Homo sapiens: one gene and its partners. The protein of the gene in region 1 purifies or fractionates together with the protein of each later gene. This does not show direct contact. Each region holds a gene or a part of one and is shown in the gene's direction. Other genes may lie near its edges.

Evidence for each region.
Region 2: the proteins of PLXND1 (region 1) and KDR purify together in Homo sapiens (affinity purification with western blotting, with the first as the bait; one study listed by BioGRID). This does not show direct contact.
Region 3: the proteins of PLXND1 (region 1) and SCARB2 purify together in Homo sapiens (co-immunoprecipitation; one large-scale study listed by IntAct). This does not show direct contact.
Region 4: the proteins of PLXND1 (region 1) and NPTN purify together in Homo sapiens (co-immunoprecipitation; one large-scale study listed by IntAct). This does not show direct contact.
Region 5: the proteins of PLXND1 (region 1) and NRP1 purify together in Homo sapiens (affinity purification with western blotting; one study listed by BioGRID). This does not show direct contact.

What each region holds. Positions count from the first base shown.
Region 1 is NC_000003.12:129,571,017-129,577,381, reverse strand, and holds part of PLXND1 (plexin-D1 precursor), read left to right. Parts: intron 1-1,526; coding exon 1,527-1,616; intron 1,617-1,819; coding exon 1,820-1,913; intron 1,914-2,891; coding exon 2,892-3,046; intron 3,047-3,636; coding exon 3,637-3,788; intron 3,789-4,196; coding exon of another isoform or gene 4,197-4,317; intron 4,318-4,440; coding exon 4,441-4,540; intron 4,541-4,633; coding exon 4,634-4,773; intron 4,774-5,537; coding exon 5,538-5,705; intron 5,706-5,782; coding exon 5,783-5,873; intron 5,874-6,078; coding exon 6,079-6,342; intron 6,343-6,365. UniProt on the Homo sapiens protein: Cell surface receptor for SEMA4A and for class 3 semaphorins, such as SEMA3A, SEMA3C and SEMA3E. Plays an important role in cell-cell signaling, and in regulating the migration of a wide spectrum of cell types.
Region 2 is NC_000004.12:55,117,356-55,123,720, reverse strand, and holds part of KDR (vascular endothelial growth factor receptor 2 precursor), read left to right. Parts: intron 1-2,530; coding exon 2,531-2,624; intron 2,625-4,920; coding exon 4,921-5,117; intron 5,118-6,365. UniProt on the Homo sapiens protein: Tyrosine-protein kinase that acts as a cell-surface receptor for VEGFA, VEGFC and VEGFD. Plays an essential role in the regulation of angiogenesis, vascular development, vascular permeability, and embryonic hematopoiesis.
Region 3 is NC_000004.12:76,205,739-76,212,103, reverse strand, and holds part of SCARB2 (lysosome membrane protein 2), read left to right. Parts: intron 1-6,365.
Region 4 is NC_000015.10:73,593,684-73,600,048, reverse strand, and holds part of NPTN (neuroplastin isoform b precursor), read left to right. Parts: intron 1-2,679; coding exon 2,680-3,027; intron 3,028-6,365. UniProt on the Homo sapiens protein: Probable homophilic and heterophilic cell adhesion molecule involved in long term potentiation at hippocampal excitatory synapses through activation of p38MAPK. May also regulate neurite outgrowth by activating the FGFR1 signaling pathway.
Region 5 is NC_000010.11:33,214,683-33,221,047, reverse strand, and holds part of NRP1 (neuropilin-1 isoform a precursor), read left to right. Parts: intron 1-6,365. UniProt on the Homo sapiens protein: Cell-surface receptor involved in the development of the cardiovascular system, in angiogenesis, in the formation of certain neuronal circuits and in organogenesis outside the nervous system. Mediates the chemorepulsant activity of semaphorins.

The sequences.
Region 1 (6,365 bases):
CCGTGGGCGCCTGGGATGGGGAGGTGTGAGCCTGACTTGAGTCCTGCCGATTCTTCCCAGCTGTGTGGTGGGGCAGCCTCCACTCTGACCGAGCTGCAGGGGCGCCTGCCCTCCTGCTCCCCAGGGCCTGCTCCTAGAACACTGAAGTCAGGCCCAGCGGTGGGGGCCTGTTTGCTGAGCCTACACCCTGGGGAGCTCTGGGACGGGCCGGGTGTGCTGTTCTGAGGTGGCTGAGGACTAAGAGGAGGGACCCATCTCCAGCTCAGCATGGCAGGGGACAAAACGGGCTTTTGGCCCCGTCAGCAGCCACTTTCCTGTGTTAGCTTCCGGGCTGGGACCCCAGAAGCAGGGAGGTTGACCTGCATTCTCCTCAGGGTGTCACATCTGCCAGCCACAGGGACATAAACAGGAAGCTCTGCCACGCAGCTGGCTGGGTGCTTGGCGTAATACACAAAACCTGAGTCTGTTTACTCAGCAAATATGTATTGGTGCTGCTCCTGAGAAGGCCAGATGAGCCTGGGGAACTGAGCCTCATGACACAAACATTATTGGATACCTCCTGCATACTAATGATAGCAAGCACATATTAGGCCCCTACCGTGTGCGGCCCCTTGAGGTACACAATCTCCAGTTTTCCCAGCAACCCTATTCCCATTGTCCAGGTAGGAAAACCAAGCCTCAGAGAAGGGGTCAACTTGCATGAGGTCACATAGCTGGGACATGCAGAGGTGGGGTTTGAACCCAGGCCAGGGCTCTTCCAGCTGCTTTCTGCTGCCCTTGGGGGTGGTGTCAGAGCGGCCGAGCCCTGACCGTCCCCGGTTGGCGAGGGGACAGGTAAGCAGCCAGGCAAGAGGCTAAGGGTGATGCCTGGCACACAGGGATGGGGGCAGCTCTAGGAGCTTCGTAGTGCCCCAGCAGACACCTGAATAGTTGCTGCTGAGGGAATGAATGAGGATCAAGTGAGGCACACCCCTTTGATTTGAGGGCAGCATCTGGGAAGGCTTCAGAACAGGGGGCTTTTAAGCTGGATCCTGAAGGCTGTGTTGAGCTTTGCTGGGTGGTAGAAAGGAAGACAGGTGTTCAGGCGAGGGGAGGGCTCAGGCAAAGGCCGGGGCAGGAGAGTCTGGCCGTGTTGGGCGTTGGGGCACGTCTGAGCAGGGCCTGGTAGGGCAGGATGGGAGGTGGGAAGGCTCGAAGAGCAGGGGAACCCCGCTGGGAGTGGAGCCTTAGGAGCTGAATACAAGGCCCCTGGGTTAGATCACTGGGGATGCTGGAGAGGCTTTTAGTGGTGCTGAGCGCATGAGGCCAAAGTTCTTGGCATTCCTGCACTGCTTGCCTCCCTCAAACATTGGACGTGATGGCCAGGAAGGGGATTTTGGGGGACGGGACAGCCCATGCAAAGGCCTGACAGTTCGACCAAGCCCACCTTTCCCAGCAGGAGCCCGTGGTGTCCTGCTGGAGTTAGAGGGCAATGCATGCTGGCTTGGTTCTCCTCAAACCCGCCTCCCACTCCCTGTTTCCCACAGGGTGCAGCCCTGGAGTGTAGTTTTGGGCTGGAGGAGATCTTCGAGGCTGTGTGGGTGAATGAGTCTGTTGTACGCTGTGACCAGGTGGTGGTGAGTGGGGTGACTCCAGCATGGGCGGAGGGCGGGCCTGCGTTAAGTCCAGATGCTGTACCCCTCACCCCACCCTGCCTCTCTCTACCTTCTGGTTCCCCCATCCCCAGCAGCCCCAACTTCATCTGCCTCCATGACACCCATCCCCAGCAGAGCCCCAGGCATTGCCCATGCCCCCTATGCTCTTTTCTGCCCTTTTGCAGCTGCACACGACCCGGAAGAGCCAGGTGTTCCCGCTCAGCCTCCAACTAAAGGGGCGGCCAGCCCGATTCCTGGACAGCCCTGAGCCCATGACAGGTGGGCACCCCCACCCGCCCCACATGGCCTCGGGGCCTCAGTGCAGTGGGTGGGGCTCAGCCTTGTGCGACTCATTCCAGTGGTTGCCCCAAAGCCGCAGATGTCCCACCCCATTGTTCTCCAGCACACACACAGCCTCATATCCCAGCCCTGCCATGCCATGCCAGGCTCCAGGCCTTGGGGTCTCCGTGCATAGTTTCCCCTGCCTTCCTGGGCCTGATCGTCCCCATAGGAAACAGGACACAGTCCCTCTGCAGAGCTTGTAAGGACCTGATGAGCCAGGGCTCGCCCAACCTTGAGCGTGGCATCTGGGGTGTGGTCAGCTCCCCTCGCGTGGCAGCTGTGCAGTTGCTGTGACTGTCTGTGTTGGGTCCACTCTCCAGGGGCTCCTCTGTTCATGGGGAGTCTCAGGCATCCCTGGTGGACGTGGTGCCCTCCAGATTCCCACCATGAAGGTCCCAGAACGGCCCTGCATACCCAAGGTCCTGGAGAACCCTCCCTGCCCTCCTCTTTGGGCTACTTGGAGGGTTTGAAGCCCCAAAGTACTCATAGTCCACATTACTCAGGGATCCCCAGCATCCTAGGGCCCCGCCGGGGTTGATCAGACCCACTGAGGTCTGGGTGGGATCTGGCTTTACCACCCACAGGCCTCGTGAGCTCAGGCGAGTCCCTCCTGTCTGAGCGTCAGCCTCTTCTCTGTAAAGTGAGGCTGACCTGAGGCTCCCAGCTGGAGTCTCTGTGAGGGGAAGGAAATCAATGAAGCAGGGGCTGCACTGTGCTCAGCACAGGCCCCAGGGGTTTGGGGAAGGGGCTAAGAACCTCAGGGGATCCTGACCCCCAGAATCAGGACTTCCTCTGGGTGGGGCACCACAATGATGGGGCGCAGACCTCTTGACAGTTGTTGTGTGTGGAGGGCACAGCGGTGTTGGGGCATGCACCGCAGAGCGGGGCTGACCGAGCTGCCCCGTGTCTCCCCAGTCATGGTCTATAACTGTGCCATGGGCAGCCCCGACTGTTCCCAGTGCCTGGGCCGCGAAGACCTGGGTCACCTGTGCATGTGGAGTGATGGCTGCCGCCTGCGGGGGCCTCTGCAGCCCATGGCTGGCACCTGCCCCGCCCCCGAGATCCACGCGGTAAGCATGCCCAGTGGAGGCACGTGGCACCCGCACTCCGGCACGGCGCATGCGCAGTGCCCTCGAGGGTCCCACTTCTTGGGGACCCAAACGGCACATACACCGACACATGGGTGCAGTATCACCTGTGAACAAAAGGAAGTGCTCTGCCTCACAGAGCTGATGTTTCAGTGGGGGAGGTGGACAGTAATAAATAAGGAAATGAATAAATTATAGAAGGCATTGGAAGTGTGGCGTGGAGGAGACACCGAGGGCTGAATGTTGTTAGTTTCAGGGGATACCATGATCACTAAAGCCACCAATGACATGGCCAAACATTGCTCCTGGAAGCTGACCTCAGCATCCTCCAGGAGACCCCCTAAGTAGCGTCCCCAGGCCCACGTGGGCTCAGTAATGCACACCCACATCCTCCTTGCCAGCACAGTGACCTGCCAAGTGGCCACAGTCCCAGCCCCACCTGAGCCTCCAGACCTTCCTCTAAGCAGTGGGTCTGCACGGCTGTGCCCTGCTGGGTGCCTGTGACTGTGGGCAGAAGCCTGCTGGCCTGCAGCCTCAGATCCCATTCGCCCCTCTCTCGGGTCACCTGGCAGATTGAGCCCCTGAGTGGCCCGTTGGACGGTGGGACCCTGCTGACCATCCGAGGAAGGAACCTGGGCCGGCGGCTCAGTGACGTGGCCCACGGCGTGTGGATTGGTGGTGTGGCCTGTGAGCCACTGCCTGACAGATACACGGTGTCGGAGGAGTGAGTAGCCACGGTGCCCCCACCTACCTTCTCCAGCAGTGCCAGCCTCTGCTCTGTCCTCCTCACTCCTCCCTCCCCATCCTCTGTCCTCACTCTGCTGCTTTCTGGAAGACTGTTGCTTCGTGGCCTCCAGGCCTGTGCCGAAGCCATTCCCACCACACATCCTGCCGTTTCTGCTTGGGGCATCTGCTTTATCCCTCCAGCTCTGGCTCTGATGCCCACTCCTCTGGGAAGCCCTCACAGGCTGCCCTAGCACAGCCCTTCTTCCACCTAAGCCTTGCTCTGAGGAAAATCATTTGCAATTAAAAAGGCTGGGGCTACTGGCATGGTTTAGAGATCTGTGACTGGCCCAGAGGGGCCGTAGGAAATACGCGTGAGCAGAGACTGAACTGGCTTTCCTTTTGGGAGGCCGTGCATCAGGCGTGTGGAAGAGCCGTCATCTACCAGCCCAGCAGACGTTCTCATGATCAGAGACCCTTTTGTCCCACCCCCGTGTCTTATAGTTGCAGAACTGTGGGAAACTGATGGGGTAAATTATACATAGAAGGCATTGGAAGTGTGGCATGGCGTGGAATGGGGCGATCCCTGAGCCTGGCTCTAGGGTGGCCGTGGGGGCCAAGGACCGCTGGCTGACCACAGCACCTCCCCTCAGGATCGTGTGTGTCACAGGGCCAGCCCCAGGACCACTCTCAGGTGTGGTGACCGTGAACGCCTCTAAGGAGGGCAAGTCCCGGGACCGCTTCTCCTACGTGGTAAGGGGGGGCTGCAGCCCACTGTCCGGCCCGCCCAGCACGCACACTCCCGGGGGCTGGCCCGAGGCCCAAACGCCTGCCTTCCTCCCACAGCTGCCCCTGGTCCACTCCCTGGAGCCTACCATGGGCCCCAAGGCCGGGGGCACCAGGATCACCATCCATGGGAATGACCTCCATGTAGGCTCCGAGCTCCAGGTCCTGGTGAACGACACAGACCCCTGCACGGAGCTGATGTAAGCCTCTGGGCCTGGCCCATCCCTTCCAGCCCAGAGAAATCAATGGGCTTGGGGGCTGGCGGGCTGGAGGTGACATCCTTGAGCCAAGCCTCTCTTGGGTCTTCATTGGCTGTGTCCCCTAAGCCAAGCCCCTTCTCCTCTCTGAGCCTCAGTTTCCTCAGCTGGTAAGAATAGTACCAGTAATTGGAAGAAGGGCTTTGTGCCAGGTATACAGTAGTTGCTCCATAAGTGATAGCTGTAATGAGAATGGTGTTGATTGCACACACACAGATCTTCTGGCTGGCCCAGGGGTGTGGTGAGTGGCAGGGGTGTGGTTGGAGTCTGTTGGCGAAACACCTTTGTCTTTATTATGCACTTATTGTGTACCAGACCCCACTAATGGGCATTGCTGGGACACCAAGAGGAGCACAACATAGACCTCAAGGGAAGGGCAGACATACCCACGGGAAGTAGGAACATCCAGTGGGGCTAGGATTGGGAGAAAAGTCAGTGCCTTCAGGGATCTGGGGAGAGAGACTTCACCAGGGTTGGAGGCGGGAGAGAAGACCTGGGAAGGCTTCCTGGAGGAGGTGGGATGGGGCGGAATTTGGAAGTGTAAGGAAACAGCTGGGCACTAACTGGGCAGAAGATGAGTTGGGACCAGTCAAGGAGGCCTTGAACCCCAGGCCAAGTGCGTGGACTTGTGCCCCAGGTCTCAGGGGCATTGGCGGTGGGTGAGCAGCAGAAGGCAGGCCCTGCTGATAACCTGCTGCTCCCCCCAGGCGCACAGATACCAGCATCGCCTGCACCATGCCTGAGGGGGCCCTGCCGGCTCCGGTGCCTGTGTGTGTGCGCTTCGAGCGTCGGGGCTGCGTGCACGGCAACCTCACCTTCTGGTACATGCAGAACCCGGTCATCACGGCCATCAGTCCCCGCCGCAGCCCTGTCAGGTGAGACTGGCACCCCGCCCTTCCCCCAGGCTCTCTGGGGCTGCAGGTGCACTGATAGGTTTTGCTGTCCCCCGCAGTGGCGGCAGGACCATCACAGTGGCTGGTGAGCGTTTCCACATGGTGCAGAATGTGTCCATGGCCGTCCACCACATTGGCCGGGAGCCCACGGTGAGGCATTCGGGGGCCTGATGGGTGGGAGGGGGTGGCCCAGGCACAGCCAGGGCCCTAACTGACCAGGCCTCCTCCCACTGCATCTCTGTCCCCTCTTCCTCCCTCTGCCTCTGTGTCTCCTCAAACCCCACTCCCCACCGTTTCTCCATGCCCATCTGTCCATCCTGCATCCCGGCCTGGGCCCCTGGCTCTCCTGCACCAGCTCTGCAAGGTTCTCAACTCCACCCTCATCACCTGCCCGTCCCCCGGGGCCCTGAGCAACGCATCAGCGCCAGTGGACTTCTTCATCAATGGGCGGGCCTACGCAGACGAGGTGGCTGTGGCTGAGGAGCTACTGGACCCCGAGGAGGCACAGCGGGGCAGCAGGTTCCGCCTGGACTACCTCCCCAACCCACAGTTCTCTACGGCCAAGAGGGAGAAGTGGATCAAGCACCACCCCGGGGAGCCTCTCACCCTCGTTATCCACGTGAGCACCAAAGGGGCCGGGGT
Region 2 (6,365 bases), on another chromosome or scaffold:
TATTGAGTAGTAGCATGTGTACCTCTTACAGTTATTTCTTTAGAACTTTCTGAAGAGTCCAGCTCAAGCTTGCCAATGAAAACGAATGACATTTAATGGAGCAAAAACAAAAAACAAAAAACTATGTTGGTCTACAAATATGAATTTGAAGTTATTGAGAGCCTTGTTGAATAGATTTTTGTTGTAAACGTGTCTCTAGAATAGTATGGCATAGTCTCAGCTTCCTATGAATGAAGGACATACCTTTTCTTTTTTAAAATATTTGTTACACAGGAAAGTGTGTCTAGAATGTGATCTGTGGCAATAAATTATGAGAGACCTTCAAGAGTTTCTGATTTTGGTAGCCGAGTGGGCACAGTTTATTGAGAATCATTTTTACTGCCATTTGTTTTCTCACAAGAATGTGCCCAAATAATGGTTTTTTTCTCATTTGGATGGCAGTGTGAATTGTACATCATGTTTTCAGCATCTTTCTCAACCTAGTGTTCCCCAGTCAAGTTTGAAATCTGTGTTATCCAAATGAATTGTTTTCATTTTCCTTTTCTTAGACAAAGTGGGACTCCAGGTTTCATTTTGCTTTTAAACATTTTGGTTTTTTGTTTGCCTGTTTTGGGGGCAGTTATTTCTTTCATATTAAAAAGTACTGTGCAGGCTGGGTGCAGTGGCTCATTCCTGTAATCCCAGCACTTAGGGAAGCAGAGGCAGGAGGATCGCTTGAGTCCAGGAGTTCAAGAAGTGCCTGGGCAACATAGCGAGACCCCATTCTCTATTTAAAACATAAATGTAACCCCCGTTCCACGCACAAAGTACTGTGCAAATTAATTAAACATGACCACCCAGACCAGCAACTGTCCAAGAGTGGCCCATAGACCATCTGTGGTAGGATAATTTGAAATGCTTGTTAAAATGCAGATTTGTAGACCCAGGGATATTCTGACAGAGTCTAAAGTCTTAAGAACAAAACTGTTCTAAACATAAGTCAGTACCAATGCCAGTTAATTTCTGAGATATATTGATATAACTTAGTTTCCAGTTTTTTAAAAACCATATTATTGACTTAAAAACCATGATATTGACCAGTTATGTCAGTAACTTATTTTGCACATCTGTGTGGTGTGTGAGAACATGTGCAGTCACTTATTCATTTTGCCTGCATTTGTTCATATTGGGATCCTCAGATTCAATGCACTGGATGTTTGCACTGGGTATTTACTTATACTCTCTCTATTTATTCCGTCTCATACTTCGTCCTATTTGTTCATACTCTCTTATTTGCCCAGCAAGGTCAATGCCAGTTTAGGCCTAGGGAGTCATTTTTTCTTAGTTGATATGACTTAGAAAGCTTGGGAGCCTGCCCAACATCAATTACTTTTTTAAAGCTGGTATTTTCTAGGTCTTGATATTTATTAAGACCCTAGCATAGTGGACAATTTTTCTTTCTCTCATGCTTTTTCAACACCTCATAGCTCTTCACATTTAGTTGACAGAGAATTCAGTTATCTTGCTGTAGAGTGACCCATGGTGAGGAATCTATGCCATGGTACTTTTCTGGTTCTTATCCCTTATAGGTAAAGACAAGTTTCTTATGTCTGAAGCTTGATGTCAGGATGAGTTCAGGGCTTTGATGAATAAGTTCAGATCTCCCAATTGTAATTCATTAGCATTGCACTTAAAAAAATTTATATACGTTTTTAAAAAAGGGTAATGCTAATGAATTACAATAGAGAGAAAAGTACATTAGTTTGCATGTATGTGTGAAACTGGGAAAATTTTTCACGAAAATATTCATATACTTTTTAAAAAAAGGGTAATGCTAATGAATTACAGTAGACAGAAAAGTATATTAATTTGCACATATGTGTAAAATTGGGAAAATTCCACACATACATAAAAGTATATTAATATGCATGTATGTGTGGAATTGGGGAATGTTTTCTCTTCCTCAGTTTCTCTCCCTTGCTTTTAATGTACAGTCTTTATGAGCCATTATTTCAGCTGTGGCAGTTTGGTTACCAGGGGAAGCGCACTAGAAAATTGATAAAGGAAAATGAGACAAGGTCATAGATTCTCTCACTCCCTTCAGGGTACGTAGATGAACTATATAAAAATCCGTCTAAGTGGGATTCGTTAATCAGCAATTTAGTCAAATGTGTACATCCTATGTTCTATAAGAAATGTCAGTGGGTCCTTTCCCAAGGGAGTGAGATCATCAGATGAAGGTTCATTTGGTTTCAATGTCCCGTATCCTTTTGTAAGACCTTGAAGTTGGCAATGCAGGAAAACAGGAACTCCACCCTAGCTCCATGAATTGCAGAACTGTTGTGTTGGTTTATGACCATCTGCCCATTCTTCCTGTTATGACACAGCTTGTGAACTTTTACTGAGAATGGTGAAAAGTAAATTCCCAGTTTTATACAATGAATTGCTGAAGAGGCCTTTTAAAGTATAGAGTATGCATTGTTTATGGAAGGTGTTTCCTATTAGGTCTAACTCAGTGGCAACTACATTCATTTATTTAATTTGTTTCTAGGTTTGCCTAGTGTTTCTCTTGATCTGCCCAGGCTCAGCATACAAAAAGACATACTTACAATTAAGGCTAATACAACTCTTCAAATTACTTGCAGGTAAGGATTCATTCTAGATCTAGATTTCTTGTGTTAAGTAACTGATTGTTTATTGAGTGGAAATAATTTCCAGTAGAGCAGAATTATAATAGAGCTTGTAGTAATTGTTCATAAGTGGTGAGGTTTCTAAGAACTGATGTAATAATGGAAAATGAGAAGAATTTTCTCTCAAAAATTCTGTACAATTTTGCTGGTGTTTTTATACTATTCTCTGCCAACATGCATACACACACACACACACACACGCACACAAATACACACCCACACCCACATTCCAATAACCAGTACAGCCACCTGGCGTATAGTAGACATACGCTCAATAAATATGAATGAATAAATGAAGTTGAGGGCATACATTTAAGGAATAGAGTTGAAAAAATTTGGGACTATATTTATTATGCTTGGTATGATTCTTGAACACTTATTATCCCTTTCCAAAAACTTTGCTTTATAAGAAATTTATTACTATAATTACTTAGGCAGTAATATTTAATAGCAATTTAATATTTAGTGGGTAATATTACTGAGCGCATGATCTACATAAATAATGGACTTCGGGCCCTGCCTTGATATTCTGGAATGCATCTTTCCCCACTTGCTAGCAAGAAGTCATGCTATTGATTTTTGATAACTGGAGAAGTAGACTTCTTTGTCAAGAAGAAGAGGCCTTTAAATTTTGCCTTTCAACCCTTACCCCAGGACGAAAGATAGAAGACCCTTGGGTTTAACATAGTGATCACACACGAAAGGCATGGAGCCTTCTTAGGACCTGTGTGTTTTTGGTAGAGACTGTGACAAGTGGAGGTGATGTTACCCTCCTGGAAGAGTGCTGGGGGTCCACAAAGGACCTTGGGTAGGTTATTGCCATTGCTTCATACTTGTTGAATACTAAGCATTAAACCGAATGACATACATCTATTTTAGACTGCAGTATAAAGAATACCCTAGCCCCTTACCAATACCCAGCCCTTGGGAAAAAACACAGTAGCAGGTGCTGTTTCTCTAGCTTTACTTGTTTAAGACACATTTCCCATTAGATTTTCCTTTTACCGACCCTCGATAACAAGGTTATTTGAAATCCCCAAGGATCCCATGCTCCCTTTTTAAAACTCTGCATAAACATTTCTTATGTTCTGAAAAAAACCATGGAGTGTGTTAAAAGTAACTTCATTGATTTAGCTGCAACTTCCTGGAAATTTTAAGTTCTTTGAATGAAGGGCCAATAATGTTACATTCTTCTTGATGTTGACTATCTTCTTATCTTCCTTGGGGCCTTGTAGAGAAATGCTGCAGTACAAGCCATCTATGTTTTAATGCGAGGTCCTTACAAGGTCCTGAGGGACTCTTACTTGCACCTCCTTCCTTCCTAACCTCACTTCTTACTCCCCTTTGCTCACTCTTACCTGGCTGCTCTGGTTTCCTGGCTGTTCCCTTAATACTCCAGATATGCACCTGCTCCAGGGCCTTTCCATGTGCTGTTTTTGCTCCTGTAATACTGCTCTTCATGATGTTCCTATGGCTAGCTTTATCAAGACCACCTCCTGCAAAATTCTTTACTCTTTTCTTTGTATCTTCTATATTTTTCTCCATAGTACTAAACACTATCTTTTATACAATAAACTTTCCTTACTTTTTAATTGCCTGTTTTCTCCAGTTAGACTGAGGTTCCATAAAGGCATTGATTTTTGTCTGATTTGTTCACTGCTCTTTCTCTAGTCCTTAACAAGTTTGGCACATAGTAGATGCTTAATAGATATTTGTTGAAAGAAAGAATGCATTAATTAATGGAAAACTCAGGAATCTTTATAAGTGACTTCTGAAGCTGAGTTTATAACTTTTCATCATATGTCAATCTGACTTGTTGGTAGAAGACTTTGTTTTTTTTTTTTTGAGGCAGGGTTGCCCTCTTGCCCAGGCTGAAGTGCAGTGGTGTGATTTTGGCTCACTGCAACCTCCACCTCCCGGGTTCAAGCAATTCTCATGCCTCAGCCTCCTGAGTAGCTGGGATTACAGGCATGCGCCACCACACCTGGCTCATTTTTGTATTTTTAGTAGAGACAGGGTTTTACCATGTTGCCCAGCCTGGTCTCGAACTCCTGGCCTCAGGTGATCCATCCGCCTTGGCCTCCCAAAGTGCTGGGATTATAGGCATGAGCCACCATGCCTGGCCGGTAGAAGACTGACTGTGTCTGTTGAAGAGTTTATTTAAGTTTCAAAACCAAATTTTCTCTTTTCTTAGAAATAGCCTCACAGTCTGGCACTTCATATTAATACCTCCCTGAAATTAATTTTTCAGGGGACAGAGGGACTTGGACTGGCTTTGGCCCAATAATCAGAGTGGCAGTGAGCAAAGGGTGGAGGTGACTGAGTGCAGCGATGGCCTCTTCTGTAAGACACTCACAATTCCAAAAGTGATCGGAAATGACACTGGAGCCTACAAGTGCTTCTACCGGGAAACTGACTTGGCCTCGGTCATTTATGTCTATGTTCAAGGTAAGTGGTGAAATAAAATTCATTTCCCACGTCTCTTTACCAGTTATAAAAGACAATAGGCTCAAAGAAGAATTGAGTACAACAAAGGGCTTGCTCTAAAGGCTGTTTGCCAAGAGGAATACACACAATTCTTCTCTCCTGAGGCTTTCTCTGAGAAATAAGACTCATTGATTCTGGAGCTTGGGCCGTGTTACCTCTTTTTTGCCCAGTTAGTTTGGGTCTGATCTTTGTTTCCAAGGTAAATCTGTGTTCACTGTTGGCCATTGAGACTTATAAAAAGTCTTCCTATGTTTGAGAAGAAAACCTAAAATTCTTGAAATCGAGGAAGATTTGGGGGTGAATTATGGAGAAATTTCTGTGGAGAGATAAGTTATCTACAGCAGAGTAGGAGATTTTCCCAAGAATGCATAGGAAAGCATTTTTTGCCAAGGGCTCTGGAGTTTTTTGCACATAGGAACCTTTTTTTCTTACTAGTATTTCATAAAAAACAATTCCCATACTCATGTGCAAATAAAGACATTGCTTCAGACTCTTTTCAGGACAATGTTTCTTTCCTTTGCTTGTTTGGTCTGAGATCTTGGATGATATGCTGTATCTTTCTAGGATGTGCAGTTTGGGATTGATATTATGAAGGCTGACTTAACATCCATATAGTATAAAATAAATGTCACACATATTCTGCATTTATAATGAGTTATGCATTCTTTTGTGTTTCAAAAATCTTACACTATCTTATCTTTTCTGTGAAAACCTAACTTAACTAATGAGATCCCTATGATATAAATTTAAGGAATGTAAGGGCTGCATCATAGTTTGGTTGGATGTACCAAATATTTTTCTTTTCAGTGAAGATAAACAGACATTTTATGTATTTACGTATATGCCTTTTTACATCCCAGAGTATTTGAGACAGGTGAAGATGACTTAGACTTTTTTCCCAGAAGCAGCTTTTACAGGGCAAGAATTTCATCAGCTTTGGGAAACACACTTGCATATCTCTGCTTACATTTCAGTAGTGTAATATGGTCAGTGCAATGAAAAAGTGGAGACCACATCAAAATAACCTATGCCACTGGATTCACAATGTTTGAGAAATATCTTTGCCCAGAGTAAGCACTGTCAAAGATAGAATTCTGTGCCCTCCTCCTTCCCTCCACAAGATTTGAAAGAGACAAGGCTCACATCTTGGAGAATTTCTGGCTCCTTTTGACCTGGCAGTCTTGAGAGATGCAGCTCGGTCAGAAGATT
Region 3 (6,365 bases), on another chromosome or scaffold:
GTTTTCTTATATGGCCTTGAAAGGCTGTTTCAAGGAGCCCTATAGGATGAGTGATCTTCCCCGTGGTTCCCATATAGCCAGCCCTTAGATTCTCTGTGTGTCTCCATTTCTCTGGGTGAGGGGGTGGCTGTAAGGCAACTTGGCTGGGGCCTGAGTTTGTGTTGATATTTCCAAGTGTTTTTCTCCATGAGGAATGGACTCTGTTCTGATAAGTAATAGTACAGGGAAGTGGACTTTCAGAGCTGCTCAATCCCAGCTAAGGAGGACTGCACGGTGTATTGTATGAAACTAAAGGACAGGGCTAGTTTCAGTGGGCAGGTGTGGAAATACTGTTGTCATTAGAGGTAAGTCACACATCGCTATTCTGCTTTTTCCTGGATTACCTGTAGGGTGGTAGGTAGCATGGGACAGTGGGAAAGATTGAGGATGTTACACTCCTGGGCATGAAACCTAGCTTCCACTATGTCCCAGCTCGGTGACCGTGGGCTGTTTAATCTTACTTGATTCATGTTTTCCCCATCTGTAAATAGGGATAATAAGGACTAACGATCACATCTGCTTTGTCAAATAATTCTTATAACCTTAAGGTGTGATCTTTCTGGGATATAGTTAGTGCTTAATAGGTGATAGCAACTTTATTTTTATTAGAAGCCACACAAAGAAAATACGTGAGATTTGGAGTCAGATTCCATATGTTCAAATCCTATCCTTGCCAGTATAAGCTTTATGACTTACGTCAAATAACTTACTTGGTCCTCAATTTCATTGCTTGTAAAACTGGGGATATGAGCTGTTAGCTAACTTGGGCACAGTGATGCATTTACCATGAAACTCGCAAAGTTAAGCTTTGGGTCTCTCACTTGCACAGACCCTTGCGAAGCCCTGTACCTCATTCTATATCCCAAATTTTCTTTTTTCTTAAGAAGGACCCTTCAAATTGTATAAGCTTCAGGACCCACAAAACCTGGATTTGTCTCTGCATGTGTATTATTGTAGGACCAAGTATAAAGCACTTAGCATAGTATCAGGCACAGAATAGGTAATCAATATGTGGCAGTCATCTTTATTGCCACTAGTATTACTATGGGAGAATTCATTCATAACTTGATTCTAATGTAGTTATAATATAATCTACTCTGATATTTCCAGTTCTTTGTTTTTTCATTTGAAGATTGTCTATGCCCCGACTTGTCTATGTCAAAAAGGGAAGAGGGAAAAGGGATGAAATTCAAATGAGTAGGTGTGGGAAGCTTAGTAAGAGAATTCCTATCCAAAAAGTTGTCTCAAATGATAATTGTCCTTGAACCCTGCAGTGACCAGAGGTAACTGAAGAGAGACTTTTAATTTTGGCCAGTGAATATCGTGGAAGGAACCAAGACAATTTTGTTTCATTTTTGGCCTCAGTGGTGACTGCCTCGTATTGGGCAAGGCCTGTAATTGTTTCTGCTTCAATTTTCTCATTTGCAAGAGAGGCATAATAGTACTTCTCTTTTTCCCACACCCTCTTCCTAGGGGATATTGTGAGCATTAATAAGGCATTTCCTTACAAGCGTTTGGGCCTTCATGAAGAGAGAGCTTTGCAGAGACCCAGCAGTTCCTTTTCCTCCCTTAGGCCTGGAAAGGCAGGAGTTTACGTTACATTTCATCTGGTATCCCAGTGAACTGCCTTGACACCTAGCACAGTGCCTGAGATACATATTAAATGCCTCTTCACTCGCCTGTGATCATTTTAATAGAAAGAAGAGTGTCCTGAGAATCAGCAGAACTGAATCAAACATTTTTTTTCTGTCCCTAAGGATTTCTTGGACTAAGCTGAACAAGCACAGTGGCAAGTTATTTAATCCCTCAAATCCTAAGGATCCTCATTTTGAAAATAGGAACAATAAGGATAAGAATACTTAACTCAGAGTTGTCACAAGAATGAAATAATATGATATCTATAAAGCACCCAGCACAATGCCTCGCACAATGCCTGAACGTTAACAGTTGTTATGTCTTTAGCTATATTTGTCATCTGTGAATTGAAACTTATTATACAAGCTATGGTTCCTCTTAGCTCCAAACTTCTGAGATCCCATGACCTTTAAGAGCAGCTATGCAGTTCAGAATATTAAGTTTGCGCTCCTAATCTCTGCAGACGTGCTGGCAGGTTGACTGTCTCCCAGTAATAGGGATGCAGAACTGGCCACAGTCAGGGCTGGCCAACAAGGGATGGGATGGCAAGGGAACCAGTGGGAGACTGTTTACACCTTTGACTTCCTCTTCACAGGTCAAGGCAGGACTGTAGCATTAGGTCTCAGAGATGCAATGAACAGGACAAATACACTTCCCCTTCATCTGGACCTGAGGCTCTGGGCAAGTCAGTACCAGCTGGTTTCTTTTGGGAGCCATAGAAACTCTGGAGCTGTTCTACCGATTCCTCAAGAAGTAAAATATAGGCCAGGCGTGGTGGCTCACGCCTGTTATCCTAACACTTTGGGAGGCTGAATCGGGTGGATCACAAGGTCGGGAGTTCGAGACCAGCCTGGCCAATATGGTGAAACCCTGTCTCTACTAAAAATACAGAAATTAGCTAGGCATGGTGGCAGGTGCCTGTAGTCCCAGCTACTCGGGAGGCTGAGGCAGGAGAATCGCTTGAATCCGGGAGGCGGAGGTTGCAGTGAGCCAAGATGGCTCCCTTGAACTCCAGCCTGGGCGACAGAGCAAGACTCTGTCTCAAAAAAAATAAAAATAAAAATAAAAAAAGAAGTAAAATGTAATCACTGATAACCAGATTGCTTTGATTGGTGACTATGGGATCTTGTTTTTTAAAGTCAAATCAGCAAAACATCTTTATTGATGTGTATGTAAAGGCATTCAGCTATATATCATTTTAAAAGGCTCCTTCTTGCATATCTACCTCATCTCCTGAGTTGCCTCTATTCAAAGAAGACTTATCTTAGTCTGAGATTTTTCTTGATCAGAAAAAAACCTGTAAAGATATCTTAAATCTGTTATCTTACGGTCAAGGAAATTGAGGCTCTTGGAATAGAAGTGACTTATCTAAAGTCAAATGGAGAGGGAAGGAGAGAGCGTGCCAGCTAGCCTTCTGATCCTGAACCCACTTTTCCCATCTCAAGGATGACCATACATCCCATTTGCCTGGAATAGTCCTACATGGTTTCTGTGTACCTGTTGTGCTGGTGTAATCACTAACACCCCCTTTCCTCCAAAAGATTTCTGCTTTGGACAATAAATTCTATGGCCATCCCTCACCTCTCATGCTACATTGTCCTTACAGACCACAATGTATCCCGCTTCTTGGCTCTCTTAAGGAGTTGAGGCCTACTCAAACTAGCTCTGGCAAGAGAGGATTCTTTTTTTTGTTTCTGTAAATCTGGAAGGGGAAGCTCATAGAAATCAAAGGGCAAGAACCACGGCACAGTAAGGCCTCCTGAGAGGACAACCGAAAGTGGAAAGTCAGCAGGAAGCAGGCACACTCTGCCTCCCACTTTTTCCTCTGCTTTCTCCACCAACAGGCTTCCTCTGTTTACTCAGCCTGGCTCTGTACTCATCCGGGCTTGCTCAGCCCCGCCTCAGTGTGACTTTCCAGCTGTTGACCTCTCATAGACATGCTTCATCTCCTAGTTTCTCTTTTCCAAGTTTATAACGGAGCAATGTGATTGGCTCAGCACAGGAAGAAACTATAGCACTGTAAACGGAGGCAGTGTCGTTAATTTCCTTGCAAGATTCTCTAACTCCTAAGCAAAATTATCCAAATTCTTTCCTGGCTTTTAGAAACACGATCTTGTGATATCAAAATCATATTAAGTTTATTTTAGTGTCTTACTAATTCATGTTGACTATGAGTGCATTCCTTATTAATGATTAAGACAATATAGTAGGCTAACAGTTGTCAGCATAGCCCCTAGACTCTAGGAGATGCATCTAAATCACTTACAAAGATTTAGAAAATACCAGACCCCATCCCAGACTTGCTGAATCAGACTCATTAGGAACAGAACTCAGGTTAAAGTGCTTATCATAAAATCCATTACTGGAGGCAGGTTGCTGTGGGATCGTAATCTGCAATTTTGGGAATATGCATTTTTAAAAAAGGTGTTTATATTTGTATAGTGATTATTTTAGACCATGTCTTCATTCCTTAAGATGGTAATTCTGACTGAGGAGATTACTACTTATAATTACTATTAATCTGCAAGTTTACATTAAAGGAAATATTATTTGGTGAGGAGGGGAAGATTCCTGCCTGTGGAAACTACTTTGCTTTATTGTTAAATAAATCCAAGATTTCATTCTGTCAGGCCACAGCAGAGGGGCCATCTGTTCTGCCAGACATTTGCTTATTTCCCAGGAAGAATCAGGAGGTGGAATTATAAGCTCATTGATGAAAACATAGGATGTTGGCCAAGTTACTAGACATTCCTGGCCATATCATCAAGATATGCACTATCTATACACTATACACTAAGGAAGGGACCATTTTTAATCCAAGCTGGTAACTGGAAAAAACAACCAAGGAAAAATAAAGACCACTTTAGGTGTTTGCTTTCTATATCTAAATGCACTTTTGGGTACATGCTTTGGCAGTCATTCTTTCATTTGACAAATATTTACTGAGTGTGTACCATTTGCAAGGCAGTGTGCTAAGAGCTATGGATATAACACTAAACAAGAGGCAGTCTCTACCCTTGCAGATTTTATAATCCAATTTAAACTCCTGGGCCCCTCATATTCTTAAAAATTATTGAGGACCCCAAAGAACTTATGTTTCCATACCTATTGATAGTTACAATATTAGAAATTGAAACTGATATGTATTTTTGAGAAATGTTTAAAACAGAAGACTACACAAGCACATATTCCAATATGACATCATTATATATCACGTAACCTCTGGAAGACTCCACTCTACACTCAGAGAAATAATAGAATTAAAAACGCAAATGATACCTTAGTATTAAAATAGTTTTGACCTTGTGGGCGCCTCCTAAGAAGGTCTTCGGGCTCCCCAGGGGTCCTGAGATCACACTTTGAGAACTGTTGATCTAGTTTTCATTTAATTATTTTTTTAGAATATTTTTAAAAATACATAATATCCCTGTTTTATATTCCTGTAAGGCCAGTTTGGAAGCTATCTTGTTAATGTTTTCAAACAACCAGGATTTTGCTTGGTGTGTCTTTGATTTACTGTGTCCTTTTGGCTTTCCTGTGAGTCCAGTGTTAAAAATAGGAGTTTGGGCCATCAGTAATTCCAGTTCCACAATCTCTTGTCTTTCCCCGAGTGCTGATCAAAGTAGACAAGAGCATTCATATCTCCATAATTGAATTACTCAGTAATTCCCTTCTGGCCTCAGCCCTGCGGGGATTTTCAACCCATATGACGTAATTTGGTATTTTAATCTAGTATGAAAGCTCTCTTTGAAGGTAGATGTCCTGTCGTATTTAGTTTTGTGTCTTTTCTTACTGCCAAATGCAATGTCTTATTCAAAATAGATGGTCAGTAAGTGTTACTTGGATGAATAGAGAAAATAATTTCTTTGGAAATGATTTTGTTTGCATTTTGTTGTTTAGTCTCACATTTTGCCTCACTCTGTAGGCCAGTGGTCACATGTTTGTCTCATGAATGATTTATACCTTTAAAATCTGGAAACTTCACGTATTGGTCCAGATTTCCAGCTTCTCTTGAAACATGTGGATGTTCTTTGGTACTCGTCATACCAAGTTCTGTGTGGTAGCTGTCTCGGCAGAAAAGAGGCTGACCCTTAGAAGAGACCTGCCTTCCCTGTTTCCCACTGTCTTAGTCCATTCAGGCTGCTGTCACAAAATAGCATAGACTGGGTGGCTTATAAACAACAGAAATTTATTTCTTACAGTTCTGGAGGCTAGGAAGTCCAAGATCAAGGCCCCGGCAGATTTGGGGTATGGTGAGGGTCCACTGCCTCATAGATTATGGTCTTCTCACTCTAACCTCACATGGCAAATGAGCTCTCTGGGGTACCTTTTATGAGAACTAATCCCATTCGAGAGGGTTCTACGCTCGTGACCTAATCACCTCCAAAGGCCCCACCTCCTAATCTCACCACCTTGGGGGTAAGGATATCAACAAAGGAGTTTTGAGGGGACATAAACATTCAGACCACAGCACCCACCGTCCTTTGCGCCCTTATTGGCTCCCAAGGCCCAGTGAAGGTATCCGTTGTTGTGCATGTGCTGTTGTGTTTCTTAGAGTAGAGAAATGTTTCTCTATATCTGACACTCCTTACCAAAAGAAGGAAAATGAAAGATAGCTTGAGAGGATCATGTGTTTAACAGAAATGGGGGAGGGCATGTTTCTCTGTAGAAATGAATATTGCTGCTGGGGT
Region 4 (6,365 bases), on another chromosome or scaffold:
CTTGGGGTTACAGTGGAATTGGATGGATTCTTGGTGAAAGGATACTTTCAGGCATCTTTTTTACATTAGCATTGTCAACAGATTGATAAACAGGCTTAAGTCTAAGGCTGCTTTGAAGTACAATACAGAAGAAGGGAAAAAGTACAAAAGAAATCCACTAACAGTTCTAGGGCATAATCGAGTACATAATTACCGCATTTGAGAGGCTGTAACTCCCCAAGTTCACAGATAATGTGATAAGACCATTTGTGATTACCACTTATGGTCAAGAATATGATTAAAACAGAATAATACTTTTACTGCATTTCAGGGATTTACTGATATCCAGTTTTCTCTGGTGATTGAGCCAGTAGTAAAATAAATAAAACCAACTTCCTTTACTTCCCCTCCCTCCCTCCCTTCCTTTTCTTTCTTTCTTTCTTTCTTTTTTTTTTTTTGACGGAGTCTCGCTCTGTCGCCCAGGGCAGAGTACAGTGGCACGATCTTGGCTCACTGCAACCTCCGCCTCCTGGGTTCAAGTGATTCTTCTGTCTCAGCCTCCCGAGTACCTGGGACTACAGGTGAGCACCACCATGCCCAACTAATTTTTGTGTTTATAGTAGAGACGGGGTTTCACCATACTGGCCAGGCTGGTCTTGAACTCCTGACCTCATGATCCTCCCGCCTCAGCCTCCCAAAGTGCTGGAATTACAGGTGTGAACCATCACGCCCGGCCCTCCTTTACTTCTTTGTTTATATTAGCTGGCATTGACTTTGACAGGTGGGCAGGTGGTAGTTTGTGAGACCGAGACATGGCTCCTTGGATACCACTTTATTGGGCAGTGAGCTCAGCTCTTCATGCAGGGGCTTGGGGGCTCCTTTCTGTAATTCTAAAGCTTCTCCTGCATCTGAGAATGACATCTGTTGGGCTTCTTGGGGCCTCTGGTAGATATTTCCTTACAAGGAATGCATGCTGGATCTGAAGAGGTAGTTTAAAATGGCATATTAAAGGCAGAACGTTTAGTCTAAGCCTGTTAATCACTGCATTCCTGTGCTCCCCAGAGTCTGAAAATGTCAGGAATTGAAAGACTAGTATGAATTTGGAGGTCTTGGCCTCTACTTGAGTAAGTATAGTACCTCCATTAATGTTCTTAGTCCATGGTGTGGGGTTATCACCAAAGGCAAATACTGCTATGGATGTAAACAGGAATTTTTCCACTTAGTAACCTCCATTTTCAGCTAGCCCTGTTAACATCCTTGGCTTCTGGACTGTAGGAAAACAGTTCCATTTATTTCATCCTTTCCTCTGGAATGTTCTTAATTTGATGTTGGCAGATCCTGACCTCACTCCCTGCTTACTGCACAGGGGCTGGCTTGGCTTATGCAGCAGGCCTCCCAGGGGACGTTTCCAAGCCAATCAGAATGCCCTCTTTTAGTGTCTCTCTTTATACCTTCGGATACTGTCTGAATCAGTAGAAATGCTGAATGAACCCTAGGTGGGGTGGAAGGGTAAGAGAGAGTATGCTTGCACTCTGATTTTGTTTCCTATGGACCTAACTCCAAGTTTTTAAACTAAGCCTGGATTTTTTTTTTTTTTAACTCTTTCTGCCATTTCCACCTTGTCTTATGGAAGTGTAACCTCAAGCAAATTATGGGCAATTAGAGGTAGGCATCAACTTTAGTTCCTGGGCAGTTCCTAAGAGTGTTGGTTGAGGCCTGGCTTTCACCCTAGTGTTTAGTTTAATTCATCAGGGTACATTTCTCATTCTTCTGAGCTGGCTTCTAGAAGCCAGGCAATTCAACTGTATGGAGCCTGTCAAATACCATAGCTTTTCAGATTTTTCTAGGTAATGGATCTATGGGGTTATGGAGGGCACAGTCCCTCCATTAGCTGGCAGTGAGTTGGGTTGCTGGTATTGTTGGTCCCACTTCTGAGCTGACCCACAAAGTATTAATATCTCACTGTGGTGTGAAGTACAGACTGTCTTGTTCTCCTGAGGGTCTGCATTCAGGAAGAGGCTGCCTAACGCTAAACAACTGGGTTGTTTGTTTGCCATAGGCCCAGGGAAGAATAGGAGGTGGAGAAAGTCTAATCGAACCCAGGATAGAATCCTGTGTGAGAGAGAAATTTGCTACTCTTTCAGTTGAAATTTGAACTCTGAATCCCAAGAGAAGGCACCAGTAGGTCATTTAATACTTCTTGTTGAGGCTTGCAAAAGACACTGCATTTCTAACAAAGCGTTTGCCCATCCAAAAGAGAGATCCTGATTTGGCATATAAAACTACTGCCTCTTCTGGTTATCTTTCATCACTTGCCTGAGTTTAAAAAGGTAATAAATGGTTTGTGTTCTAAGGAAAGAGGCTCTTCCCAAGACCTGAGGCTTTCTCATTCCTACCAGCTGGGCCCATTGCTAAAATGCTTTCCAGTGGGCTTGCTTCTGCCTGGCCAGCACCTGGGCTGCCCCAGCTTGTAATTAGCCTGCCTTTGCTTCATAAGCTTCCCAGGGTGTGGTTCTTCTTCTAAAAGCTTGTATGAATTGCTGTACTGTCTCTTTATAGTTTAAAAATGAATCCTTTTTTGTTCTTTGCAACTCATTTGCTTTTTTCTTTTCTTTTCTTTAAATTACTATTAACACCTGTTGATTCTTTTTTTTTTTTCTGATTGGCCTGTCACTGCATTCCTGCTCCCCCTCCCTCTAGCTGGGTTTGTCAAGTCGCCCATGTCAGAAACTAAGCTCACGGGGGACGCCTTTGAGCTGTACTGTGACGTGGTCGGGAGCCCCACGCCAGAGATCCAGTGGTGGTACGCAGAAGTCAACCGGGCAGAGTCTTTCAGACAGCTGTGGGACGGTGCTCGGAAGCGCCGTGTCACCGTAAACACCGCCTACGGGTCAAACGGCGTGAGTGTGCTGAGAATAACCCGGCTCACCTTGGAGGACTCTGGGACTTACGAGTGCAGGGCCAGCAACGACCCCAAGAGGAATGACTTGAGGCAAAACCCCTCCATAACATGGATTCGAGCCCAGGCCACCATAAGCGTCCTTCAGAGTGAGTCCAGCACCCTACAGTAGTAGTACTGTAGTCATTAGAGGTGGCCCAATGACCCTTCCCTTCTGCATCCTTTCCCTCTTCCCCAGTATGATCACTCACCCCACCCCTTGTCTTCGTTTTTTTTTCAATCCCATGACCCTTCTGGTTGTAGTGTATGAAAACATCTGTGGCAACTTTTTTTCTTCTTTTCTTTGCCGTTCTCTCTGCCTCCCTTATCCCCCAACCCTTCTCTGTGTCTTTCTTCTCAGGAACAAAGAACTTGAGGAAATCCGTGACTGTCCAAAATCATCTGTGTTGGGAAGAGTTGGGGAGGGAGAACTGGGAAGCTTAAATTAAAACTCATAAAACCAGGCAGTCCAAGGAGGGTAGTGTTGAAATGGTTTTCCCTCCCCTTTGATTTTGTAGTAGGTTTCCTGCTATACTTTTGCTGATTTCTTCTCTGGTGCCTTTCTATTTTTGTTTCTCTCCCCAGTCTAACTACTTTTTATTTCTTCTGTTCTTCTGTTTGAAGCTCTCTAAGTAGCTGCCTTCACCTCTATGGTTTTAAGTTTGTGTCTGCCCAGCCTCTTCCTTTAACTGTGACTTGGTGTCATCTTGTTGTGATGGGAATGTTGCCATGGGTGCAGTGTGGTGGTGTGTTTTGGTTGTTGGGTGGCATGTAAGCTTGGATATTTTCATAGTTCCAGCTCTTTTTCTTTTCTAAAACCGTGGCATGTGCTTCTCTGATAACAGCCCTCTACTGCAGCAGTGTACTCCTCACTGGGCCTGCTAATTAGTCTCCTCTTTAAAAGCAGCAGCCTGGGACTTCCTTCTTATGTTTTGCTGTTAGGAGCCAGGTGACACTAAGCTGCAAATTATTATTTTTTTAGCCCATCACACTGTTTGGAAGTCAGAGTTGCAGTTGATTCCTGTTCACGGTTTGACTCTGATGAGTAGCTGTTGGCACAGTGTACCTTATCCCAGAGCATGGGAACTCCAGACATAGTGTGGGGACCACTCACACTGGCCTTTTCTTTGTGTCTTGAAAAAAGAGGAAACTAACTTCCAACCTGGTTTCTCATAGTGATGGGGTGAGCTGACCAGCTGGCTCAGAATCCTCTCCTTGTAGCAGGTATGCGTGAGACATATGACACCGGGACTTTTGTGGCCACTTCTCTCTCTTTCTTGAAAGTGACTTGCTACCTTATGTTGAGAAGCAGAGAGAGGGAGAAGCCACCACAGAACCAACGTTCCTGGCCAAGAAGAGTTCTGGCCCCACATCAAACCTGGTTATAATTGAGGGGACATTCACTTTTGGAAAGATCCTCTGGGTTTTTCACCTTCTCTTTGAGGACACAATGAGAGATCTATAGCCAGTTCCAGCTTAAAGAGCTGATTGATCTAGAGAAAGTAAGAATAGTAAAATCTTACTTTGATGAGGAATTTGGTAATAACATAAAGTAGTAAGACATGGGCCTTGAGTCTATATACTTAGATGGAAAATAGCAAATTAGTGTCTGTTCTTTGTAGCCACTTGAAGATCCTATGGGTAAAAAAAGAGTCCTTTGTAGGGCAGTGGTAGGAGAGGCTGCTGCAGTTGGCACTGTTGAATCAAAGAACCTGCTTCTGGAAAGAGGAAAAGAAAACCTTGTCTATGTGAAAATGGGGAACATTAACCCAGTGATTTTTTTTTTAACAATATTTTTACCCTGCACGCCTCCTTCTCCTGCCCCCTTGCTCCTTTCCTTATAAAAGCAGAATTACCTACATGGCCACAAAGGTCTGTGGAAGTTTATAGGTATGGACTGGGCTGGGCATTTGCACTTATACTTCCAAGAGCCTGACTCATAGCTAGAATGGCCATGCCAAGGGGCTAGAAAAAGATGAGGCATTGGGGTACCTACCTACCAATCCCGAGAATACATAGCATTCCCCAGTTTACTTAGAATTGTCTGCATGTGGTTGAATCAAATCCAAATCCTGGCTAGACTCTCTTCAGACTTCCCCATCAGTCAGTTAACCCAAGTTAGCTGTTTTGGAGAGCCAGGAGGTTGTTGCTGCTGCTGCTGCTTTTTTTTTTTTTTTTTTAAAACACCCTGGATCCAACTCTAATTGGACTGTTTTATGATCTCAGCGTCCCAAAAGACATTGCTCTATGGGGACATCAGGTGTTCTATCTAAGAATGACCTCCTGGTAGTACTTTCCCCAAAGCTCATTGAGTATGTAAGGCAAGAAGAGAAGTGTGCCCAGTTTTTAGGTATCTCTCTGGCCATAGCATGTTCTTTATATATGCATGATGGCTGGGGTAAGGGTCTCCTATCCACTGCTTTTAAATAGACATCAGTGGCAGGTAAACACATTTGAACTTCTCCTAAATGTTCATCTCTCTTGGACTTTGGGCAGCGCTTGGCCACAAAAATAAAAGCCCCACCTTCATCCTGGTGCAGAATGCAGTTGAGGCACCATGGCCAAGGAACTTGGTGTAGCACTGTTTTTCATATACAGCAATCACAGGAGGCAGGTTACCCTACCCCACAACCCTCCTATGGTGCAGAATCATATTTAAACCTATTTAAATTATCCACTTGCTCCCAGTGACTCTCTCCTGGATCTTTAACACTTAAGGGAAAAAGTGCTTTCCTTTGCCTTCAAAGAATACTTGGCAGAAAGTCTACCAGGTTGCTTTCATCAACTTCTTAATCTCCCTGAGCTGCAGTGGTCATTTGCATCGCCACAGGTAAGAGTAGCATTTACTTTGGCCTCCTTGTATTTAAACATCTGGAAGCTCTTGGCCTCATTCTCAGAGTTTACCCTTTCTCAGTGCAGTCTGAGAGGAATACCCAGAACGAGAGTCCCAAGTGGGACAGAAAATGAAATTGGATAATAAAAATTAAGTAAAAACCTAAAAGTGTGTTTGGGTTTTAATGTTGCCTTTATATTTTTTTAATTTCTCTTCTGTGGAGTACTGGTTCTATCTTTTTCTCTTTTGTTTTTGCTTGGTTTTGATTTTTCTTGGAATTGTGATGCTTTCTGCTGATGGTGTGTGTGCGCCTTCCATTGCAGGGTTTGCAGCCGTTCTGCTCGACTTCTTAAGGCCCAGGGATTTGGCTTCTGTCCAGTGTGTCTTGGAAACCATGGGACACCACTGCGCTAACGTGTTTACATGCATCTGCTTCTGTCTTAGTGGCTGCTATGCCTCCATTATCTGTACATAGAGACCCTGTTTGATGTTACTGATAAGGACCAGTGCTGAATGGAAGATAACCGTTATCCTTTTGCCAGAGTTGGAAAATAGAACTAATTTGTTAATTGAGCAAACTTAAGGTTTTGCATTATTACAAGTTTCTTCAAAGAC
Region 5 (6,365 bases), on another chromosome or scaffold:
TGTTGCTTGGGCTGGTCTCGAACTCCTGGACTCAAGCTATCCTCCCACCTCGGCCTCCCAAAGTACTGGGATTACAGGTGTGAGCTACTGCCCCTGGCCAGCTTTATCTTTTTATTTGTTTTTCTTTTTTTTTTTTTTTTTTTTTTTGAGACTGAGCCTTGCTCTGTCACCCAGGTTGGAGTGCAGTGACATGATTTTGGCTCATGGCAACCTCCACCTCCCAGGTTCCAGCGATTCTCCTGCTTCAGCCTCCTGAGTAGCTGGTACTACTACAGGAGTGCACCACCACACCTGGCTAATTTTTTGTATTTTTAGTAGAGATAGGTTTTCACCATGTTGGCCAGGCTGGTCTTGAACTCCTGACCTCAGGTGATCCACATGCCTCAGCCTCCCCAAAGTGCTGGGATTACAGGCGTGAGCCACCGCGCCCAGCCTGTCCATTTGTTTTCTTGCATGACTATGCTATATTCTGCAGTATATAGCAGTCATATTAGAATTCCTTTCCATTTTAGTAAATACATTGCCAAACTTTCATTGAAACAACCACCACCAACAAAAAACCTGTACAATGTGATCTTTATAGTAAGCTTGGAAGTTCAAAGACAGAATCAGTTGACCCACTCACTAAAAAGTAATTAAAAGCAAGCAATGTCTAAAAGTCTTTGAACTACCTTTAATATTATGTTATATATGTATTTGGGGTATTTAATTTTTTATTCCATTTTTCTGTTTATCCTCTTTAGTTTAATTATTTTTAGAGGAGAATGATACCGACTTTGGAAGGAAAAAAAATCACTTTGGCAATATTCCATGAAATTACAAGCAATTTTGAGAAGAGCTAATGAACAGGAAAAACTATACTTGTTTATAGTAGAGTTCAGCTTGGAAAGTAAAAACCAACATCTGATTTTTTAATGAAAAGTTTATTTATTTCCATCCCACAGACAGACTTGTTTATTATTTTAGGACCTAAGATTTAGAAAGTTCAAGGCCTTAGAGGCAGGAATTGGGTGGAGAAGGGTTTGAAAGAAGAAAGGACATTGAAAAGTTAGATATAACCTTGGCTTTATTTTTGATCAGCAGTTAGATGACAGAAAGTTCTAGGTCATTTTCAGAGCATTACAGATTTGTGCTGTTATTCATAAATTTGTAGAAACAAGGCCATTTGAGGTTTGGGTGGAAATTTCTGGCCCATTTCTTCAACCTTATCTCATGTCATTGTATTTAAAAAAAATGAGGTAAACTTCATAAAGACTCCAAACATGTTAGTCAAAATTCTGAATTTCCAGGCTCTTAGAGATTTATGTCACATCCTTTTAGTTGAATACAATTTTTTTTATACCTAAACTGTCCTTTTTAATTTTCACAAGGATTTCCCTGAGAGGTGATGCTAGGAATGTGAGCAAAGAAGGTAAATAATTTGTTCAATTTTTAAAAATAGTTAAATGATCTAGTTATGTAAACTTAGATGTCTAAAATAGCATATCCTAATATTTTCATACATAATTAAGTAGCTATTTTTCAAATAAGGTGCTTCCTTTCAGTTCCTAGTGCTAGTCTCTTAATCATGGTCTCCACTATACTTTTAAATATTTTCTCTCTAGTAAAATGTCTCTAGTCTCCAAATAATTGCCAGAAGCAGGTTTTTGGAGAGGCTAACACGTTACGATAGTCACATGGACAGAAGGCAGGCAGACATATCCAGGCTTGACTGTGGACTGTCCACTTAGTGTATGCATGACGGACCATGGATAAGACATTGAGACTCACTCTGATCTCCGTTTTCTGGTCTGTGAGGATCACCTTAATGCAACTATAATGAGGAGTCAATGAGAGGAAATTTGGAACACCCCTGGCTTAAACTAAGTGCTCACTAAATGGTACCCGTTAGACTAAAATAGTACATGGCACTCAATATATTGAACCTAGCATATGCCCCAGCAAGCAGAGCCTCTAATAAGACAGTAATTTCAAGTTTTTCTTCTTGATTATCAGAAGCAGATAATTTTCATTTTCTTGAAATGAAAATCAAAGGTCCCCTTGAGTAGAGATTAATGAAAGGAGGACTACAGTATTCCTGCTGGACTAGATGGTCCAGGAGAGCAGGGGACCTGTTTGCCTCATTTTCTGTTGTGTCCTGTATGCCTGGAACATAACAAATGCTTGGTGGTTACTTTTGAATGAAGGAAGTGCAGTTTTATGCACGCCTTCTGAGAAACAAGCGGCTGGACCTCAAATTTTCACCCTGCTGAGTAGTCACAATTCAATCTGGATTTTGTTTAAGCCTACCTAATGAAAGGTTACTGCTTGAACACATCACTTGGCTTCCAAAGCCACTAAAGCCCCAAGTTTTACCCTAATTTTTTGATTCAGAAATTATTTTTTAGAAATATAGTAATCCTGGACTGGGCGCAGTGGCTCACTCCTGTAATCCCAGCACTTTGGGAGGCCGAGGCAGGTGGATCACGAGGTCAGGAGATTGAGACCATCCTGGCTAACACAGTGAAACCCCATCTCTACTAAAAATACAAAAAATTACCCAGGTGTGGTGGCATGCACTTGTAGTCCCAGCTACTCAGAAGGCTGAGGCAGGAGAATGGCGTGAACCCAGGAGGCAGAGCTTGCAGTGAGCCGAGATTGTGCCACTGGCCACTGCACTCCAGCCTGGGCAACAGAGCAAGATTCCATCTCAAAAAAAAAAAAAAGAAAGAAAAAAGAAATATAGTAATCCTGGAAAATTCAGAGTTTGTCACCATATAGAGATATAAAGAAAATAAGATTGGAACAAACCATTCTGCTTTATAGGTGATTGATGAAGGGCATTTTCATTATTTTGACAAAGTAGGCTTCATCATTTTGGCAGAGATGGAAATCACGTTGGGCAATGGCTGCTTAACACACTCTGAACTCTGCTATCTTCTGTTATTAACCAGAAGTCTGTTACCCAGCGCTTCAACACATATTCATGTGCTCCTAAGTCAATCAGAATTCACAGTGATGATCTCAGACACCATAATATCCAGAGGTACTTTCTGAGTCATCAAGGAGAGATTAAATTATGCTCATTCAGGGTCTCCCATCGAATGCAGTTATTACTTTCTCATTCGTTGGAAATTGGTTAACTGGATATTTGATTTACCAGTATACCTCAGTTTTTCCATTAAAGCTGAGTACAGAGATTTACTGTAAAATAATATCACTGAAAATAACGACCTCAATCCTCCATTACAAAACTCATTTCTCCCTTCCATCCTGAAGTGGTCTTAAGCTTTCCAAACAAGGCTGCCAAGTGAAATACAAAATGTCCAGTTAAATTTGACGCAGACAAACAAGACATAATTTTTCAGAATAAGTATGTCCCATGCAATATTTGAGACATATGTGTACTAAAAAATTATTCATTATTTCTCTGAATTCTAATTTCACTGGGCATCTTGTTTCTTGTTTTGTTGTTTATTTGCTAAATCTGGCAACACTATTTCCAAAGGGTTTGACCTGCACCGGGCTGACCTGTACCAGCCTGCTATGAAGGGACAGAGTTAAACGCTAGCATCTCATTCAAACCTTGAATTAATTGTTAATGTAATTTTTCTGCAAATTATTGTTAAAAGTGAGTCACATAGTTTTCAGTCAAAGGTAAATCAAGTTGCCTCTTCATTTTTTTTTTTTTAATGAGGCAGCTATATGGAAGGAATAACAGTCTCACTTTGCACCATGGATATGTTGGCTAAATGGGGACAGGGCATCACTAAGTCTATGAATACAGAAACTGTGCCCCAGCCGAGTCTGCATTAGAGAAAGGGCATTAATCTGGTGACGGTTCTGCTCTCCTTACAGTATTCAAGTTAATTATGTTTGCCTCCAAATGGTAACATCTGGTCCCCATTACCAGCTAAACATTGCCTTTCTAAAAGCTTGTTTGGAATCAGGCAGGTATGAACACCGTGGCCAAAAAATGGCACTCTATTTTTAACACTACAGTTTCATAGTCCCTTAGTAAAATTGTTTTTGTAAATCTTTTTTTAATCCCGACTGAGTATATTCTTGGTTTCCAGATCCCAGCCTGGAGCAAATACTGTGGTTAAGTTACAGGAAAGGGCAATTGAGAAAATGACAGCTGCCTTTCATTGTATTAAGTTGATTCATTCAACAAATATTTGTTGAGCAAATACTATGTATAAAACAGGGCATGAAGAGTCATATAAAACAGAAAAATATGACTTAGTTCGTGTCCTCAAAGAAGTTAAAATCTGGGGAGGCAGAAAGCAGCATTCCAAAGAACTAAATGTGCTCATCAGCATTTGAGGGCTGGATATGGTGGCTCAAGCCTGTGACCCCAGCACTTTGGGAGGCCAAAATGGTAAGATCTCTTGACCCCAGTAGTTTGAGAGCAGCCTGGGCAACATAGCGAGACCAAAAAAAAAAAAATTGCCAATCATGGTAGCATCCACATGTAGTCCTAGCTACTCAGGAGACTGAGGTGGGAGGATTGCTTGAGGCCAAGAGTTCAAGGCTGCAGTGAGCCATGATCACACCACTCCACTCCAGCCTGGGTGACAGAGTGAGACCCTGTCTCTAAAAATAAAAATTAAAAAAAAGGCCGGGGTGTAGAGGGGCCAGGCGCCGTGGCTCACACCTGTAATCCCAGCACTTTGGGAGGCCGAGGCAGGCATCACGAGGTCAGGAGATCGAGACCATCCTGGCTAACACTGTGAAACCCCTCTCTACTAAAAATACAAAAAATAAGCCGGGCGTGGTGGCAGGCGCCTGGAGTCCTAGCTACTCGGGAGGCTGAGGCAGGAGAATGGCGTGAACCCGGGAGGTGGAGCTTGCAGTGAGCCAAGATCGCCCCACTGCACTCCAGCCTGGGAGACAGAGCGAGACTCCTTCTCAAAAAAAAAAAAAAAGAAAGAAAGAAAGAAGGGAAATGCAGATAAAATGGTGTGAAGAGGCCCAGAAATGGAAAACTGTGTCCAGTTGCAGAGAACAGAAAAACTGAGTAAACGATGTGGCATTTGAAAACAGGTCAGGATTTTAAGCAGTTCAGATAATGGAAAAGGGTAACATGACAGGGAATTCCTTGTGGAGGGAACAGAAAGAAAGCTCCCAAACTCCCAGAAGTAAGGAAGTTCTTCATGCCAATTGGCACTGGTTAAAGGAGTGAATGGGGAGAGGCCTTGCAAGGACATGACATGGAAGGCCTGCATGCCTGACTGAAAATGACGTGCGTAATTTCTAGACAAGAAGGCACTGAATGTCTGAGTAAAGAAACGACATGATCTGGACCATAGAACTCATGTGGAAAGTATCTGAGTAATGAATTCTTAAGGTTCAGCTGATAATGTGGACTTAGTTTAATTGCATTAGATGTTTGCCTCTCACTTAGGGGTAGTTATATTTTTAGGCTAAATTTTTATTATATAACGCAGAATTGAGTTGCTTCAAAGAAAAATAGGTTATCATTCTTGCACATGTTCTTGATTAGGATGTACAGTTTCTAAAGGAAAATACTTGAAGTGTTGGACATTTTGTCATTAAGCCAGCGTTGAATTCATCAACAACTGATACTCTCCTTGTGCTCAGAAGCTCCTTGGGCTGCTTTAGAAGACATAAAAAGGTCTATGATGCTGTTCATTGCCTTTGAAGATCTTATAATCTAGCTGTGGGTACATGACTAACAATCTTAAAGCCTTAGAGAGCAGTGGAATGCTGAGCTCTGTGCTACTTACATCATATTTCTGAGAAGGGAGAGCTCAGAATAAAAGCTAGAGTAGCTTGAAAAGTTCTCTTCATGAGTCTTAAGCTGGGTTTTGAGCAAAGGCAATGATGAGGATGACGTCTAGACTGTATGAGAAGAGAATTGCTTAACTGAGATGTATTGTCAGTAATAGAAAATCAAATTAGGCAAATGGGATGAAGTCAAAATGAGGGTCTTGAATGCCAGATCGAGTTTTGATATCTTCCTATCAATAATGGAAAACCATGGTACATTTTCAAAAGATATCTCTTTTCTATTGTCGGGGTAAAATATACATAACATAAAATTTACCGCTTTAACAATTTTCAACCACTTTTAACCATTTTAATTTTATCATTGTACATTTTTAAGTGTACAATTCTGTCGCATTAAGTACAGTCACATTGCTGTGCAAGCATCACCACTATTTCCAGAATTTTATAATTGTCTCAGACTGAAACTCTGCACCCATGAAACACTAACTCTCCCAATCTCCATTTCCCCCAAGCCCTGGCAACCACCATTTTGCTTTCTGTCTCTACGAATCTGACTGATCTAGTGATAGGCTACTCCTATCCATGGAATCAGACCATATTTGTCCTTTTTTTGTTGGGCTTCTTTCACTTAG